4 linked regions of the Homo sapiens genome follow. The protein of the gene in region 1 interacts with the protein of each later gene in a pairwise test. Each region holds a gene or a part of one and is shown on either strand. Other genes may lie near its edges.

Region 1 (5,401 bases):
CACACAAAGGAAGACCAAAGGCTGAAACCGTAATTAAGCAGTGGACAACATCAGACGAGCCAGTAAAGGGCACTGAGAAAAAAAAAAACAATTCCAAAAAAAAAACCAACGTACACTAACATAGTGACTGAGGTAACAAAATGAAGACAATAGTGTAGAGACATCTAGAAGTGCAGTTTCAATAGCTACAACAGTTGACATTCTGATCACTGTAAACTGTGTTGGAAAGCACGTGTCCATATATACTTTCTGACTGTACTGTATATACTGTACACGTTTACAACTGTGAATCACTAAATAAGCTTCTTGAAGGCAGAGACAATTAATCATTAATTAATATTAGTATTATCAGTGCCAAAGGTCAAAGAAATTACCGAATGGAATACACATATAGAATACTCTTTAAAGAAAATCATGGGAAGTTGAGTAATTATAATGAGAAACTTAAAAGAGATTAAGAATTACTAACCAGCAATGAAAAACTGCATTTTTAATAGAGCCAATCAGCAAGGTTTGTGACTCCCCAGCACTCAATATTAGCTGAGGAAAAGAAGAGCTATTTGCTCTCCAGTATGAGGTCTGGAAAACAGATCACCAAGGATGCCAGAGAACTGAGGATATTATATGGAGTATCATGGTCACTCTTACGAAAAGTAGAAATAAACCAAGAATCAAATTAAGAGGGTCTTGCTAATTAACATCAGGTTTTTTCTTTTCCCTTCGTACTACATATATGTCAACCAGATGAGCAATTGTTCTTAGTTTCAAAAAGTACTTGTTTTGTAGCAAGTAAATAAATAGTATGATTCAGATCCCAACTTAGATTTCAAAGTTCTGAACAATGAAAACATTTTATGCACACATTCAATAATCGTATGTTAACAGAGTTGCTACTTAAATGCAAGTCAGACATTAAAAAGCTTAACATACCCTGATGGCAAGGTTTCTGTGTTGGCATTCCCAGACTGCTGCCGTACAGGATCCATACACCCATCTGGCTGTCTTGATTTGGCTGCTTCAAAAGCAGAACTACTTCTAGAATTAGAGGTGTCAGGCTCTAATATACTTCTAGCTTCAGATTCCAATTCTGCACTGGTAGAAGGAATACATTCATTGTTTTCTGAGGAAGTCAGTATTTCTTGAACTGGAGGATCTTCAACAGTAGTACTAGTGCAATTTGGAGACAAGGCATTTTCTTCAGACACTACTGGAGTACCCGTGACAGACGCATTATCAGTTGGTGCAAATGAGGATGATTCTCCATTAACTGAGAAGGGAAAATTAATAAAATCATCTATCAAGTAATGATAAAGCAATCAATTACCTAATCAATTGACTACACTTATTCAGAGCCTAATCCAGACTAAGCAACTACAATCCATTCTCCAAACAGCAGACAAAGTAATATTTTCAAAATATGTAACATAAAATAAAATGGAGATTTTATTTTTGTTGCTCAAAATTTCAGGGATGAATATGTAAATGATAAAAATTTAAGTATGTATAATAATAACAACCTTAAGGAGAGAGGAACCAGCATTAAGATAACCAGTGTTTTCCCTCCAAATCATCAATTCTGAGAGGAAGTCTGTATGGGCCATCTAAACTCTGAAAAATGATCCCTTTCAATCGCCCTTCCCTTGTGTAAGTGGTAGCTAACATCAAACGAACTGTTTTGCCAATAGTAGGAACTGTATGATGGCATCAGTTCTTAAGATAGTACTATAGGGGTTGCAAGAACCCATTCTACACTTTTTCAAGAAATAACCCAGTACTGCAATCCAGTGACACAGTTTTCCTAATTTTCATTTTAAGTGTGATTGATCTAGTTCGACTACGTGTCACTATAAAAATGAGTCAAATTAAAACTGTAAGGGTGAATAGATTACAGAACAAAACCTACTGGAAGACCATATATCAAAGTTCTAATGGAAATGGCAGAGGGAGACATAATCACAAATTTTAGGAGAATTAATGACAAAAAGAAAACACTCAGATTAAATGCTACTGGACATGGCCAAAGAAGTACCTAAAGATGTAAGAAAGAATGGTAACAAAAGAGCTTAGAATTCATTCCAGATACAGAAAAAAAAAAAAAAAGTAAGTAGAAGAAAATGAATTTTGGTCAAAAGACCCAAAAAAAAGATCAGAATTTCCTAATGCACCTGATAAGACTCCAGAACTTACTGAAAATATAGTATCTAAGTCCTCATCCTAGACTTACTGAATCTCTAGGGGAAATCTCTAGGGAAGAACCTGGGGATCTGCATTTTTAACAAATGCATATGATTTTTTTACTCAGGAAAGCTGGAGAAACCATGAAATATACCTTTCCAAGTGTTATAAAGAAAACATGTTTAATATAAATAACATTAGAAATACCACGTACAATTTCATATCAATGAGTTTGAAATTAGCTAAACTAACTCAAGGGAAAGAAAAAAAGACAAATCAGAGCAGCAATGGAAAAGGTGATGAAAGTTCTAATATCATCCCTCCTAAAGGCTCCAGGCTCAGAAAGGTTTTTGAGAAAATTCTATGAAGCCTTTATTGGATAGATCATTCTTATGTTATTTAAGGTGTTATAACACATTAGGGGAGAAAAAGTGAAAAGGAGTGTCCTAACTTATTCTGGGAAGGTAATGTAAACTTTCAAAGCTGAAACTGAACAACAACAGAACAAGAAGACTATAGACTAACATCATGTATAAATTCAAGGATGATTTGATATTAGGAAACTACATTAGAAAATCTACTGTTAGCAGATTAAAGGATAAACGTCATATGATTATTTTCAAAACAAACCAAAAGCATTCAAGAAAATCTTGGTAAAATGCCTGATAAGAAGAATCATGAAAAATTAAGAAGTAATCTAGATTATCTATCACAAACCTACAGTCATTAATATACAATAATTGTAAAACATTTTAAGAACTTTTTTTTTTGAGAAGGTGTCTCGCTCTGTGGCCCAGACTGGAGTGCAGTGGCACAATCACAGCTCACTGCAACCTCCACCTCCCGGGTTCAAACGGTTCTCCTTCCTCAGCCCCCCAGTAGCCGGGATTACAGGCACCCGCCACCACGCCTGGTTAGTTTTCCTATTTTTTGGTAGAGATGGGCTTTCACCTTGTTGGCCAGGCCAGTCTTGAACTCCTGACCTCAAATGATCCACCCAACTTGGCCTCCCAAAGTTCTGGGATTACAGGCATGAGCCACTGTGCCCAGCCTATTGTAAGAACTTCTATTAAGATCAAGAATAAAGTAAAATCAGGGCTGGGCACAGTGGCTCACGCCTGTAATCCCAGCACTTTGGGAGGCCGAGGCGGGTGGATCACGAGGTCAGGAGTTTGAGACCACCCTGACCAACACGGTGAAACCCTGTCTCTACCAAAAAATAGGAAAATTAGCTGGGTGTGGTGGTTGTGTGCCTGTAATCCCAGCTACTCAGGAGGCTGAGGCAGAAGTATTGCTTGAATCCGGGAGGTAGAGGTTGCAGTGAGCCAGGATCACGCCACTGTACTCCAACCTGGGCAAAAGAGCAAGACTCCGTCTGAAGAAAAAAAAAAAAAAAAAAAAAAGAAAGAAAAAGAAAAAGAATAAATTAAAATCAGCAACAAAACAAGGAAGATCACAATTACCAAGCCAATTCAGTATTGATTATATTTGACAATCCATTAAGAAAAGTCATAACAACATTGGAAAGAATATGGTAAAACTCATTTGTAGTGAAAATGACAAATAGATTATTTATTTAGAATACACAAGAAAATTTTTTTAAAAACCCCATTAGAACCAATTAATTGGAGCTAAAACATTTCAGCAAAATGAACAGACACAAGATCAACAACAAGATTACTTCAAGACCTATCCGAAGAAAAAAAATTTTTTTTTTTTTGAGACAGAGTCTTGCTCTGTCACCCAGGTTGGAGTGCAGTAGCGCGATCTCAGCTCACTGAAACCTCAGCACCCCAGGTTCAAGCAATTCTCCTGCCCCAGCCTCCCAAGTAGCAGGGATTATAGGCATGCGTCACCACACCCGGCTAAATTTTTTTGCATTTTTAGGATTTCATTATGTTGCCCAGGCTGGACTCGAACTCCTGACCTCAAGTGATTCCCCAGCCTGGGCCTCCCAAAATGCTGGGATTACAGGCGTAAGCCACTGCACAACCAGCGTGAAGAAAACACTTTAAAAAACATTACTAAAAAGAATGAATACAGACATAAAATATCTCTCAATGGGAAGATTCAGTATTGTTAAAATAATAATAAACAATAAACAACTCTCCTTGAAATGCAAATGTTGGTGAGATGCAAAGCACTAGGAATTCTCATTCACTGCAGTGGGAATGCAGGAGTACAGCCACTTTGGAAGACAGTTTGGCCGTTTGTTACAAAAGTAAACATACTTTAAAAATACAACCCACCAGTCTCACTCCTCAATCCAACTGAATTGAAGACTTATATTCACGTAAGAGCCTGCACACAAATGTATATAGCAATGTTTTTCACAATTGTAAAAAACTGAAGTAACCAAGGAGCCTTTATAATAAGTGAGTATTTAGTGATAAAAAGAAATGAGAAGTCAAGCCACAAAAAACATGGAGAAACCTTAAATGCACCTTGCTAAGTGAAAGAAGCCAATCTGAAAAGGCTACCCACACTGTAGGACTCCAACTATGTAGCATCCTGGAAAGGACAAAACTATAGAGCCAGTATTTAAAAACAGCTGTTGCAAAGGGTTTGAGGGATAAACAAATGAAACAAATTTTAGAGTAGTAAAACTATTCTGTATGATACTGTAATGGTGTGTACATGACGATATGCATTTCTCAAACCCACAGAACCAGTACAATACAAAGAAGGAACATTAGTTAATATAAGGTAATGTAAACTATGGACTTTAGTTAATAACAATGTATTATTAATGGTTCATTAATTGTAACAAACATCACAGTAATGCAAAATGTTAGTAATACAAAAACTCTGAGTGGGATGGGAGGACATATGGGAACTCTCTACAATCTCCCCAGTTTTTCTGTAAATCTGAAACTGTTCTAAAATATAAAGTCTATTAATTTAAAAAAAACTCTTAGAAACAAATTATTTCTATTCAATAATTCAACAAATGTTGGTTCTTCAATACTGCTCAGAACCGCATTAAGATGCCACAATAATATTTGACTGGAGAGATTACTGTTCATATATATCAATGGTTCTTGACTAGGGAAGATTCTGCTCTCCCCACCGCCAAAGACATTTAGTAATGTCTGTAAATGCATTTGGTCATCACAACTAGGAGAAGGTAAGATATTACTGGCACCTAGTGGATACAGATCAGGAATACTGCTAAACATTCTATTAATATAATGCACAGGACAGCCCCCTACAACAAAGAATTACC
Region 2 (4,112 bases), on another chromosome or scaffold:
GACATAAAGCCAATGACTTTTCTCATGAATTCCCATCTCCATTCATCTCTGAATGCCCAGATGTGGCCTCTGATAGCAGCGCAGCATGAGCCTTCAGCCCCTCCTGCCTCCAAGGGCACGCTCCCAGGTGCACGGCCCAGCCTTCGGACATCCTCACCTTGCAGCTAATGCAGTGCAAGAGTGTGAAGGCAGAGATGCTTCTAGACACAGCAATTTCCAATACCTGCCAGAGGACAGGCAGCTGGGTGGGGACAGGCCCGGGACCCTGGAGGGACCAGAGTGAAAACACGCCAAGTCACACCTGCCCTGTGGGGACTGGAATGGAGACTGCAAACACAAGACAGCAGCAGAAGCTGACAGCATGTGGGAAATGTCATAAACATCAGGGGGAGAGAATTAAGTGTCAACACAGCTGCAAGACAGAGAAACCACTCTCAACACAAGCACCCCGAGGAGCCAGCACCAGAACCACGAGGCAGCTGGAGACAGCAGGTGACACAGGAGCACCGCCACTCCCATCGTTCAGAAACAATTCCTTTCTGCTAATGCATACAAAGCATGTAAGCAACACCCAAATCCTCAAAGATGGGCTGATTTCAACAATTAAGTCATTAATAGTAGAGGAGGTAGACAGGGTAAGAATAAAAATAGAAAGGCCTCACCCAGGTGGAGTGAGGCAGGAACCCGGGAGAGGCACCGCCCCACATGGGTGCAGCACCCGTCCTGGGAGGAATTTCTATCTAGAGCGAGACTGAAACCAGTGAGGCCGACTGCTGAATGCTCGTCTCAGCGGACAAACACTTACAGGCTGGAAGATCTTGAGTTTCTTCTTGCCACTTGGATTTGCAGCTTTCTCAATTCTACCCTTTATCCCTTGGTCTTCGCTAGACTTCTGCTCTATTGTTCCTATACTTGTACAATCGGTGCCATCAGCATCTCCAGGTCTCCATTTAGCTTCCTGCTGATCTGCCGTTTCTGAATGAGTCTCATCCTGCACTTGCAGAATGGTGCAGTTTGGGCAGATATAGTCTTCCCCATTCCTTTCCAAAAGCCTCCCTCGAGCCTCAGAAATGCCCACACAATCGCCATGAAACCATTCTTCACAGCGGTCACAGCAAATCATAAACCTGAAATTATAAAATAACGGTATTAGCAATGGGACGTGAGTGACAAGCACTTTTCAACACATTAATAAGACAATTGGTTTTAACTTCATGAAAAAATGCAAATATACAGAAAAGTAGAGATTAAGAACGTCCTCATGCCTTTCCTTTGATTTTAACATTCAACCAAATTTACTTCACCGTTTTTTAAGAGTAGCGCATTTTAGGAGCAAACTCTAAGGCATTCCACCACAGATACCTCAGCAAGTCTCCCCCCAAAACTGCGACAATGCCTTTATCCCAGCGCCAAGCCAACAGGCTGCCTATCACCGTCTGACACCCAGTCCTAGCAGAGATCTTTTGAGCTGCCCCAATGTTTGCACTAGGACACTTGCGGTCTGCACATGCCCCTCTGCTATGTCTCCCAAGGGGCAGTCTAGAGGAGCAGTCTCAGACAGACCCCGGAGTGACGGACACATTCTCCTCCATGCCGTCTACACAGAGCCACTGGCTGCACGTGGCTCACGTGACTGGGGTGGGGCGCTATTCACCTCCTCACTTGACTGGAAACAGCCATGTGTGGCCAGTGGCTACCAGAGTGGAGAGGTGGCTCTAGGAAGTCCTTAGCCACTCTTATGTGTTTCTTTTTTGACAACTTGTTCATCTTTTCCAACAAATCGCTCATCCAGCCCAGCTTTGTAACCCTTTAAAATGAAAACAAATGGAAAATTCTGTTTGCAACCCTGGGATTTCTGTGGGTGCCCACACATGACCCACCTGTTGTTGTGAGGCTGGCGGCAAATGCAATACAGGGCGTTGGGGTCGTAACCCTCACATTCAGGCTTCGGTCGGCCCAAGTCTCCAGGCTCCTCATCTTTGATGTCCTGAGCCGCCTTTCCCTCCAACTTACTCTCTCTGTCATCTTTCCCAGCCTGGGACACAACCCCCTGATCGTTCTCGGGCTCCTGCTTACTGGGCAGGACGCCCTCCACAGTGTCACTGGCCTCGGAGCCCACAGTCTCGGCGGGACCCTCCTCCCGGCGCTTCTTCCGCAGGCGACTCTGGATCCCTTTCAGGGGCCTCTCAGTGGGCTCCTGTTCCCGCTTCCTGCGAAGGCGATTCTGAAGCTCTTTCAAGGTCAGGCCATCGCTGTCACTATCGGAGGTGTCATCGTGGTCATCCCCTCCTTTCACCTTTTCAGAAGAGGCTGGTCGTTCCTTCACAGCTGTGGAAGCAGACTGGGGGCCGCTTCTGGTCTCAGAAGCGCTTTCCACGCTGCCCTCGGAGGCTGTCTCGGCGTCTGTGGCGGGGCAGGACGTGGGCTCACCAGAATCCTCCAGGGAGACAGGCATGCTCCTCCTGCCGCGGCGCCGCGCAATGGTCAGGAACTGCTCCACGCGCTCAGTGCGCTTGGGCTGCCTCCCACTGCGCCGCAGGGACAGGCCCAGCTGCTGCTGTGGGGGTGGCGGCTCCAGTGGGTCAGCCTCCGCGTCCCCTGCGCCCTCTCGCTTGGCGATAGTGGTCCTTCGAAAACCCCATGTTTTCCTGAACTCTTTGCTGGTGGGTTTGATGGCCTTAGGTGCCTCCTCATTGCTCGGGTCGCCTTTGTCGTCCATACCTAGCGGTAAAGTGTAAGCACATAGTGACCAACTGACCACAGAACAAAAGGTGACATTGCCGCCAAACACGCGCAGCAGGGGCCACCTCCCTACAAACAGTGGAGCTCTACATAAAGCAAGTCCTTCTGACCAGTGTTTCCTAATGTGTGCTATGTGAGATGATTCAAGATGATTTGTAAAGATAATTTTAATATAGTTAAACAACTAACGTTTAGACAAAAATACAGCTAACAAATCAAATGTACAATTTCATCATTTAACTGCTCAGGACAAGGCTTCACAAGCCAGACAGTAGGGACAAATAGGAAATATTGGACAGTATAGCAGGGTAAGGATGTGAGTAAGGACGTGAGCAAGGACGCGAGCAGCTCGGAGGTGGCACGAGCTCCCCAGCACCTCCGCAGGCAGATGGGCTGCTCTGACCACAAGCACAGTGAACAAGACGCTGTGCCAGTTTGGGTGTGGCCTGCAAAGGGACCCAAGTCTGTTCTGGACTTTTGCAAGTATGGGCTGGCCACCACCATGCTGAAAAGAGGATATGAAGAAGCTGAGTCCCGACTTTCAGCTCCCCAACCAGGGGCTGGGGCCAGGAAGGATGCTATCACTATCTGGGACCCTCCATACCAGCCCTGCTGCCAAGTGAATGACCCTCACGGGCACAATGTGAGAGAACTGCCTAACTCCTGACCCAACAGATTGTGTGGTATGAAATAAACCTTGTTTTAGTCTACTGAGCTTTGGAGATATTGTTAGCAGCAAGACAACTGGGACACTTAGAAAACATGGTCAAGGCGATCACTTTAAGGTATATTTCTTTTTTTTTTTTTTTGAGACGGAGTCTTGCTCTGTCCCCAGGCTGGAGTTAGCCACTGTGCCAGGCCAGTATATTTTTTTTTCTGTATTATTTTTCACTTTCATTCTAATACATTACTAAAGAATCTTATTTATGAAACTTTTACTCTTGTTGAAATGACAAAAATCTGAAAAAGACAGTAGATACTTTGAGAATTCTTTTCCAAGCTGTCCAAGCTTTAATTACATTTCAATGCTAATGATGACTCTGATTTTATGCCATGTTCCATCCTGGGGGAAGGACTGGCATAAAATGAAAGCCTTAAAAAATATACAAAATGGGGCCGGGCCTGGTGGCTCAAGCCCATAATCCCAGCACTTCGGGAGGCCGAGGCAGGCAGACCACTTGAGGTTAGGAGTTCGAGACCAGCCTGGCCAACATGGTGAAACCCCATCTCTATTAAAAATACAAAAATTAGCTGGGCATGGTGGCAGGCGCCTGTAATCCCAGATACTTGGGAGGCTGAGGCAGGAGAATTGCTTGAATCCAGGAGGTGGAGGTTGCAGTAAGCCGAGATCGCACCACTGCACTCCAGCC
Region 3 (4,112 bases), on another chromosome or scaffold:
GCCAGGGCCTCCATTAGCACACAGAGCACCCTCATGCAATTAAGATGGTGTCCCTCCTCCAGGTGGATGCGAGGCTTGGGGAACACAGTGCAGGAGGGATTTCAGCCTTCAGCTGGGAGCCCTGATGCAGTGAACCACCTACACGACCATACCCAGCTGATCCCTGCAGGGACCCATGTTGACTCTACTGGCCCTACGGTGGCCTCTCACCTCAGCAATGACCTCTGCCAGCCCGGGGTTACACAGAACCAGCCAGCGCCGAGGGGTGATGCCGTTGGTCTTATTCTGGAACTTATGAGGCTCCAGCTCATAGAAGTCTTTGAAGCTGCAGGATGAGGTTGGACGAGGGTCACCACTCACCCCTGTACAATGAAGGCCTCTGCCCTGGGGCCCCTACCCTGGTGTCTTGCTGAAAGGGGCCTGGGGCAGGGAATGCAGACCTGGGGAAGGTTGGGGGTGCTGTGTGTAAGAGGAGGTCATCTCAGGACAGGGCGGCACTGGAAGGGGCTGCTGTGCTTGTAAGAATGACGCCACCTGTGAAAGGCGCCAGGGCCCAGAGACCAGAGAGTGGTCGGTGAAGGGCGGGGCTTCTGTGTGACAGAGGCGTGGAGTGGGTGGGGCCTAGAGAGGGGCGGGATCTGGAAAGCGGGGCTCACATGGTCTTCTTGAGGATCTCGGAGTGGATGCGCGCCACGCCGTTGACGGCGTGCGACCCCGCGATGCACAGGTGTGCCATGTTGATGCGCTTCACTGCGCCCTCCTCCACCAGCGACATGCGCCGCAGCCGGTCTACGTCCCCTGGGAATGCGGCCGCCACCCGCTGTGCCCAGAGAGCCCAGAGCTAGAACCAGACCCAGGAACCCCCATCCCCAGTCCCCAGCCCCACACCCCCAGAGCTCTGCCCAGTGCCCCCACTGCCCCAGAGTCTCAGGGCCCTGGCTGGACGCCCCGACTCCCAGGCCCAGACTGGGTGTCCCCCCTCACCCCCACACCATCCCCCAAGCCTCCGGACTCACGTTGAGGAAGCGCTGGTTGATCTCGTAGATGATCTGGAGGTGCCGCGGCAGCAGCGTCTCCAAGAGGTGCACCGGCCAGCGCTCCAGGGCCTCGGGCAGCACCGTGTGGTTGGTGTAGGCACAGGTCCTCACTGTCACATCCCACGCCTGGCACACGGGGTGGGCAGTCAGGATGCTGACCTCAGCCCAGTGGGTCTCCTCACACACTACGCATCCCAGTGGGCCCCCCCACTGCAGTGCCAGGTTCCAGGACGGTCCCTCTGGCCTCAGGCTCTGATCCCTTCACTCCATTCATATCCTCCCACGCTCCCAAACTGGGAAGGGAACCCCGAGGCAGAGAGCATCAGATGGGGCAGAGGGGCCCTGAAGCCCACCTTGTCCCAGTCCATCCGTTCCAGGTCCACCAGGATCCTCATCAGCTCGGGGATGGCCAGGGAGGGGTGGGTGTCATTGAGCTGGATGGCCACCTGGGGTAGGGGGAGGGGTCAGTCTGGGCTCCAAACCACATTCCATGCTATGGTCACTGCCCTATGCCATTTGGAGGCCCCCAGAGAGCCCAGCACGGTTCTGTGACTGGGCTGTGGGCAGAGGCAGGCCGGTGCTCATGGGGGTGGGAGGAATGGGGGGAGTGGGGCGGGAGGAGGAGGGAAGCCCAGGTTCTGAGCCTGTGGATTGTGAATCCTGAACAACTGACCCTCCCACACTCCCAGTCTCCACTCCCTTATCTATTACATGGGGCAGGCAGGCCGAGGCTGGAGGGAGAGGCCTAGCACACACTGTCCGGTCACAGAGTCGCCCTCCACACGCATGGTACCTTATCTGGGAAGGCATCGAAGTTCGTGCGCACGGGATCACGGCAGCCGAACTTGGAAGACTTGAAGCGACGGATGATGTCCTGGAGGGTGGCAGCCACCACGAAATACTCCTGCTTCAGCCGCAGCTCCTTCCCTTCGAAGAACTGGGGACAGCATGAGGCAGCGTGAGTCAGGGCGGTGGGGGCATGGCCTAAAGCTGCGGTGGGTGTGGCCAGGAGGGACTCCCACCCATACCGGGACCCCTGAGCCCTGAGCCGGCCCCCTCTCTGGGACCCAGGGGCCTTTCCTCCACCAAGAACTAGTGGCGAGAGACAGTGTCAGGAAGAGGGGTACAAGAACCGAGTGTGTTGTGGGTGTCGCCAGGGAACAGCCCCTCCAAAGTGCCCTTCGCTAACCCAGTTTCCTCAGGACTCAGGTGTCCTTGCACTCAAAAGACTTGAGGTGGGGGCACAGGATGCACAAGGCCAGCAATATGCCCTGGGTGTGACTAGGGCACCAGCAAGTGTCCTTCCCCAGCTCTCCCTGACCCCTGCTGCCAAGGACTCAGGCTTCCAGCCCCCAGCCCAGGGGGTGACGCACATTATCATTGGGGTACAGGACACGAGAGATGTTCTCCGCCAGGTTTCGGTCCAACACAGCCTGGATGTAGCCACCGACATTGACTGAGGGACAAAAGTGGGGACAGGGTAAGGCCTGCGCTGGGCGTGGCCGGCGGGCAAGCTGGGGTTGCTGGCTACCAGTGGATGAACTCACAGTCCTTGAGGTTGAAGTCATTGGGAGCCTTGGCAGACCAGAGGCGCATGGTGTTGACAACATTGTTGCGATAGCCAGGCACGGGCGTATCGTAGGGCATGGCCAGTACCACCTGCGGGGGGCAATCCTGTCAGGAGCTGGCCAGCCCTGGCAATTGCCTCCCTCCCCTCAGGGCTGGGACTCAAGGCTTTATCCCTGCACTCTGCAGACCCAGGCTCTTGTCCTTGTCTAGCATCGATGAGCTGGGTAACCATGAGCAAACCCCATAGTCTCTCTGGACCGCATCTAGAGCAAAGACACCCTCAACACCTCCCCGACACCCATAAGCCCTGCCTGGGCAGACGGTGGTGAGGAAAATGGAAGGAGGCAGGTGATAAGCCCGGAACCCAGGAGGGGCTCTGTTGGCGACCACTCTGCAGCAATGGGGGCTGGGCTGGCCAGCCTGGCCTGAGCAAAAGCTAGAGGACACTGTGGACTCATGAGAGGGCTGGGGGAACCCAGGGCCAGGCTGAAGGGGTCACAGAGGTCAAGTCCATCCAAAGGTCTCATCTCTGGTTGACCACAGGGCTAATTCACGGTGACTAATTCTGCCCCGCCTTCCATAACTAGCAAACATCAATAATTGTCTGCTACCACGGTGCCAGGGGTACATTCACTCCTCTAAGCGAGCCCTTTTAAGGGGCATCGCCCTCCCTCCCCACATTCAGTCACCCTGATTGGTGCAGGGTGGGAGTTGACACAGAGAGAGGGAAGGGACCCATCCCCGAGCACACAGCCAGGCTGGCAGCACCAGAGGGAGCCAGGTCTCCTGCCTTCCAGCCACAGCCACTTGTGCCAGTTGCCACGTGCACCTGGCATGGACTGCCAGCAGCCCCCACTGCATCTTAACCTGGAGGACAACAAACAAATGCTCAGTTCTGAAAGCCTAGTGGTTTATCTGCAGCCCATCTGGGGGCTGATGACCTGAAGCTTCAGCAGGAAGATTGCCTGAACTGGGATTTGTTTTTTGTTTGTTTGTTTTTGAGATGGGACCTCACTCTGTTACCCAGGCTGGAGTGCAGTGGCACTATCTTGGCTCACTGTAACCTCCACCTCCTGGATTCAAGCGATTCTCTGGCTTCAGCCTCCTGAGTGGCTGGGATTACAGGCACGTGCCACCATGCCCGGCTAATGTTTTTGTGTTTTTAGTAGAGACTGGGTTTCACCATATTGGTCAGGCTAGTCTTGAACTCCTGACCTCAGGTGATCCACCTGCCTTGGCCTCCCAAAGTGCTGAGATTACAGGTGTAAGTCACCACGCCCGGCCTAAACTGGGATTTGTACACCTGGTTTGGTTTTAAGGTTTTCAGTTTTTGGTCTTTTTGCTTTTTGAAACAGTCTCACTCTGTCACACAGGCTGGCTGGAGTGCAGTTGTACAATCATAGCTCACTGCAGCCTTTAAATCCTGGACTCAAGTGATCCTCCCACTGAAGCCTCAGAGTAGCTGGGACTACAGGCATGCACCAGCACCCTGGCTAATTTTTTAAA
Region 4 (4,112 bases), on another chromosome or scaffold:
CCATGCAGCTGAGCAGCAGCATGGCCTGAGGGGCTGCTGGACTGACCGAGGGGCTGCCCAGCAAGACTGCAGCCTCTTCCTCCCTCAGATCCCACCAGACCCACCAGGTGCCATAATAAAGCGGATTCTAGACGGAGGGCCTGCTGTCTGGCTCAGCTGGGGGCTGGAGCCCCTCTGAGTACTAAGCTTGCTGCCCCAGACAGTGGCTGCAGCTCCTAGAGGGCTCAGTCCAAGCTCTTTGCCAAGGAGAACAGGGAGCCTGGCTCTCACCCCTCAGAGCTACTGGTAGACAGGTGGCAGTCAGCCCTGCTAGCGCAGCTCCGTGCCCCACAGGGTTCTCTGAAGGGGCAGGATGGTGTGAGTAGGGGCCAGGAAGACAGCTCCAGGCGCCCTTTCCATAGGATCTGAAACAGCCCTGACTTAAACCAGCCAGCCCCTTTGAGAACACTTCTAAAACCCAGTCTAGATCCGGTTCTCAAGCAGGAGCATGACAGGCTTCTGTCCACAGGCCCCATCAGCCTGGTGGGTAAGCTGGACAACCCTCTCCCCGCCCCCTTCACTACCATCTCTATTTGAAAAACGGGGATGATGATGACAATCATCAACCTCCTGGGTCATGTCAGCAGGTAGTAAAGCCCCAACAAGCTAGTCCCTGGAAATCTAGGAAGAGGTGGCCAGAACATGGAGACAAGCACTCAGGTCCTGGCCTCAGCATCCTTTTCCTTCAACTCCCAGGAACCTGGAAGGCCTTGCTGCAGCTGCAGTTCTCAAACAGCTCCGTCTTGGGGTGACTCACTGCAAGTATGGCCTCTCCCTGCCGAGGAGCACAAATGAAATTCATTCTAGTCCCAGAAACTGCCACACAATTTCGTAAAATTTGCTTTTTAGGGCCCTTGGCATGTAATTTCATTTATTCATATAAGTCTAGATCAGGGTTCAGTGACAAGGGTCAGCATAGAGCAGGGTTGCAGACTGGTTCAAGGAGGCTTCTGGGTAGGCCCCTCCAGGAGGGATTTGGAGGAGGCTGCCCTGTGGGTGTGGCAGGAGCCACATCTTGTGGAAACTGGGTAGATGGGTGTGTGGCCCCACTCTGAGTGAATGCACCTGGCCCACATGGCTGGGCGCTGCAGCCTGCACTCCACTTCCAGGTGCTGACATATCCTCCCCAGCCATGGTCCTGGGCCTGCTGTGTCCTCACCTCAAGGGCCTCCCGGCTCAGCCTCTGCCCCAGCTCCTGCTCTCTCCTCCCTTGTTCCCAGCTCATCTTGCACTAGGCCACTTCCTAGCCTGCAGGCTGCCTATGGATCTCCTGTTAGCTAAGCAACTTGCCACTCAGGGCCCCCCACACACCTGCATACACCCAAAGGAGAGCAGGTCACTTCCCCAAGGAGCTGTGGCTTCATGGCAGCCACAACAAGAAAGGGGTCCTGGAATCCTGTTCCCAGTAAGGGAGCGCTGGCTCCCAGCACTAGAGTGGATCCACATGGGGCCCTCACTAGGGCAAGAGGGCAGCCCTCCTTCCACAGGAGCCAAGAGCATAGTGCAGGGGCAAGGCAGGGCAGAAGGGGCAGGAGCCCACCCCAGGCCTCCAGGATTCCCCTGGAAGGGGCCAGCCTGGAGGCCTTCACAGCCCTTCCCAATGTGACTGGGTGACCCCAGGTGGAGGCAGGAGTTGACAGCATGGATAGAGACAGGTAAGGCCACTGACCTACATCTGGGGGTCTGCTAAGCCATGGGCTGCTCAAGGGGCTGAAGCCAGCAGTGGTGGCCGGGCCAGCAAGGTGTGTGTGGTGGGTAGCACTGCTGTGGCTTTAATGGAGGCTTGTCTGTGACAGAATACTCAGCAAGGGACACGGGGGACTTTGCTGGCTTCTTCCCGGCCGAGCCCTGACATGCACACAGGTGGACTGGGATCCTTCAGCCCCTGTGAAAACCAGGCCTGGCCCAGCACGACCGACCTGGGAGCTGACCTCAGGGCCCTTCACTCCAAAATTCACCTCAAGTCAGGTGAGACCCATACATCATGGGTCCCCACTCACAAGTTCCAGGTGGGAAGAGGAGCCCCTTACATGGATCTCAGTGAGGGTGGGTGGGACAGGAGCAGCCCAGGCAGATTCGCTGGTGCAGCGCAAGTCTGCTAAGCCTCCTCCCGCATGTTGGAGGAGCCTTGGTGACAGGCCCCAGTGCCTGAGTCCACAACACGCCCAGGCCACAGAAGCCAGGCCAAGCCCCACTGGGTGGGAGGCCCAAAGTCTCTCCCCACTTCTGGGTGGTGAGCCCATCACTGAGCCGTGGCCTCGCATCCACACTACACCAGGAGAGGGTGATGACAGGAGGGGGTCTGCTTCATCATCCGCTCCCTGTGGGACCTGTGTCTTCAGTGAATTAATGAGTTTGGGGCCCCACATCCCCTCAGCTCTCTTTGGAGGCTCTGGGCACCCTGACCCTTGGCCTGGCAGGTGCACCCACTGCCATAGGCATGCGCATAGCCGGTAGTCTTCTCAGTAGGCAGGGCAGGCAGGCACGGCGATTCTTCACAATGGGCAGGCGCCACAGGGCCTCAGATGTCGGCGCCCAGCTCTGCGCACTGCTTGTCTGAGATGTGGGAGGCCAGGGAGTCTATGATGTCCAGCAGCAGCTGCTGGCTCAGCGACCGCAGGGTGGGCAACTTGGAGACCTGTAAGGCAAGCAGGCCGGAAGGAGATGGGACCAGATCCACCTAAGGGCCATGGTGGGCAGTGGAGCCCTGTGGGGCCTACCCTGCTCAGGGCTCAGGCTGGTCCCAAGGATGAAGCAAGGTGCGGCCAGTGATGGGCTGCTCTGCTTCTCTCACCCCCAGGGCCCACCACTGCAGGGGACCACAGAGCCTGGGCACCCTCCCTGCCTGGGCATGGCCACTGCCAAGGGGAAGCGAGTCCTGAAGGGGAGGCCAGAGCCCTGACCTTGGTGAACTGGTGCACAATGATGTGCAGGCAGTGCCGCTTCATGTCCAGTGCCTGCGTTTTGTCAGCTGCCTCCAGGATCTGCAATGGCAGGGACCTTGAGGCGCTGCCCCTTTCACCCACTCAGTGGGAGCTGCAGCCATGTGCACGGGGCTGGGGGGCTACCTGCAGCACGTTCTGCACCGTCACGTTCATCTCCAGGTTCTGCTTGCAGTACGCCTGCAGCCGGTTGTTGTAGAAGCCGTAGTAGTAGGGGGCCGCAAACAAGTAGCTGGGGCCTGGTTAAGGAGCTGACTAAAGGAAGCTGGTCCGCCCGCACCCTCCCAGGGAAGGACAGGGAAGGGCGCAGCTGGAGCCCCAAGCCCCCACGCCAGCATGCTCTCCAAATGGATTCTGAACTACTTAGTGGGTCAAAGGCCCCATTCAGGATCCAAAGAAAACCATGAATCCCCTCCCGAGAAAAATAGTGTCTGTACATCTGTAGCGCTGTTCCATGGCCTTGCAGGCCTAACAGGCATCCTGACCCTCCATGTTCAGACCCCTACTGAAGTGACATAAGGAGTACCTCCATGTCTGTGCTCAACTGTCACACAAAGCAATGACCCACCCCGTCCTCTGGGCAGTTGTGAGGGTCAGGAACCCACTGGTTCCTCCTGGCTGCAAACCCCTCCTTGCCAGCTGCCAACTGCTTCAGAGAGCACCAGGCCCAGCCCCAGGCACCAGCAAACCCTCTGGAGGGAGGCGCTGGGCCCAGATCACCTAGCTGGGGCAGGAGAGCGGGCCTCAAAGCCACCTGAGGTGGGTGCCAGGACCCCTTGGTGGGGACCTGGGAGTTCACTGGGGAGTGAGGATGCAGCGAGTCCTCGGGCGGCATGTTGACCTCGCCGTAGTAGATGTAGCGCAGCATGGACTCGAAGGCCTGCCTGCTGGGCACCATCTCCCCGATGGAGATGTTCACCTGCCCATCTTCGGGCATGAAGGACCGGAACATGGCTTCAAAGTAGCTGCAGACAACGAGCGGTAGGCACCTGGCCGTCAGCAGAACGAAGACACCATCCAGGCCCACCCTCCCCTCCTGTCCAGCCCCCACCCACCTGGAGCGGGCGGCCAGGATAGCCTTGTGGGCTGGCCGTGGGTGCCCGTCAAGCAACAGAGTGATGTCACAGAATT

The links.
Region 2: the proteins of WWP1 (region 1) and DIDO1 interact in a two-hybrid assay, tested with the Homo sapiens proteins (one large-scale study listed by BioGRID and IntAct).
Region 3: the proteins of WWP1 (region 1) and PYGM interact in a two-hybrid assay, tested with the Homo sapiens proteins (one large-scale study listed by BioGRID and IntAct).
Region 4: the proteins of WWP1 (region 1) and LZTR1 interact in a two-hybrid assay, tested with the Homo sapiens proteins (one large-scale study listed by BioGRID and IntAct).

What each region holds. Positions count from the first base shown.
Region 1 is NC_000008.11:86,407,404-86,412,804, reverse strand, and holds part of WWP1 (NEDD4-like E3 ubiquitin-protein ligase WWP1), read right to left. Parts: intron 1,268-5,401; coding exon 931-1,267; intron 1-930. UniProt on the Homo sapiens protein: E3 ubiquitin-protein ligase which accepts ubiquitin from an E2 ubiquitin-conjugating enzyme in the form of a thioester and then directly transfers the ubiquitin to targeted substrates.
Region 2 is NC_000020.11:62,908,894-62,913,005, forward strand, and holds part of DIDO1 (death-inducer obliterator 1), read right to left. Parts: intron 2,722-4,112; 5' UTR 2,720-2,721; coding exon 1,881-2,719; intron 1,128-1,880; coding exon 806-1,127; intron 1-805. UniProt on the Homo sapiens protein: Putative transcription factor, weakly pro-apoptotic when overexpressed. Tumor suppressor. Required for early embryonic stem cell development.
Region 3 is NC_000011.10:64,752,863-64,756,974, forward strand, and holds part of PYGM (glycogen phosphorylase, muscle form), read right to left. Parts: intron 2,697-4,112; coding exon 2,585-2,696; intron 2,494-2,584; coding exon 2,411-2,493; intron 1,975-2,410; coding exon 1,831-1,974; intron 1,484-1,830; coding exon 1,391-1,483; intron 1,164-1,390; coding exon 1,017-1,163; intron 821-1,016; coding exon 657-820; intron 326-656; coding exon 211-325; intron 1-210. UniProt on the Homo sapiens protein: Allosteric enzyme that catalyzes the rate-limiting step in glycogen catabolism, the phosphorolytic cleavage of glycogen to produce glucose-1-phosphate, and plays a central role in maintaining cellular and organismal glucose homeostasis.
Region 4 is NC_000022.11:20,995,797-20,999,908, reverse strand, and holds the end of LZTR1 (leucine-zipper-like transcriptional regulator 1), read right to left. Parts: coding exon 4,037-4,112; intron 3,947-4,036; coding exon 3,797-3,946; intron 3,214-3,796; coding exon 3,108-3,213; intron 3,024-3,107; coding exon 2,943-3,023; intron 2,678-2,942; coding exon 2,561-2,677; 3' UTR 877-2,560; downstream 1-876. Other genes in the region: THAP7 (THAP domain-containing protein 7), read left to right, coding at 1-29. UniProt on the Homo sapiens protein: Substrate-specific adapter of a BCR (BTB-CUL3-RBX1) E3 ubiquitin-protein ligase complex that mediates ubiquitination of Ras (K-Ras/KRAS, N-Ras/NRAS and H-Ras/HRAS).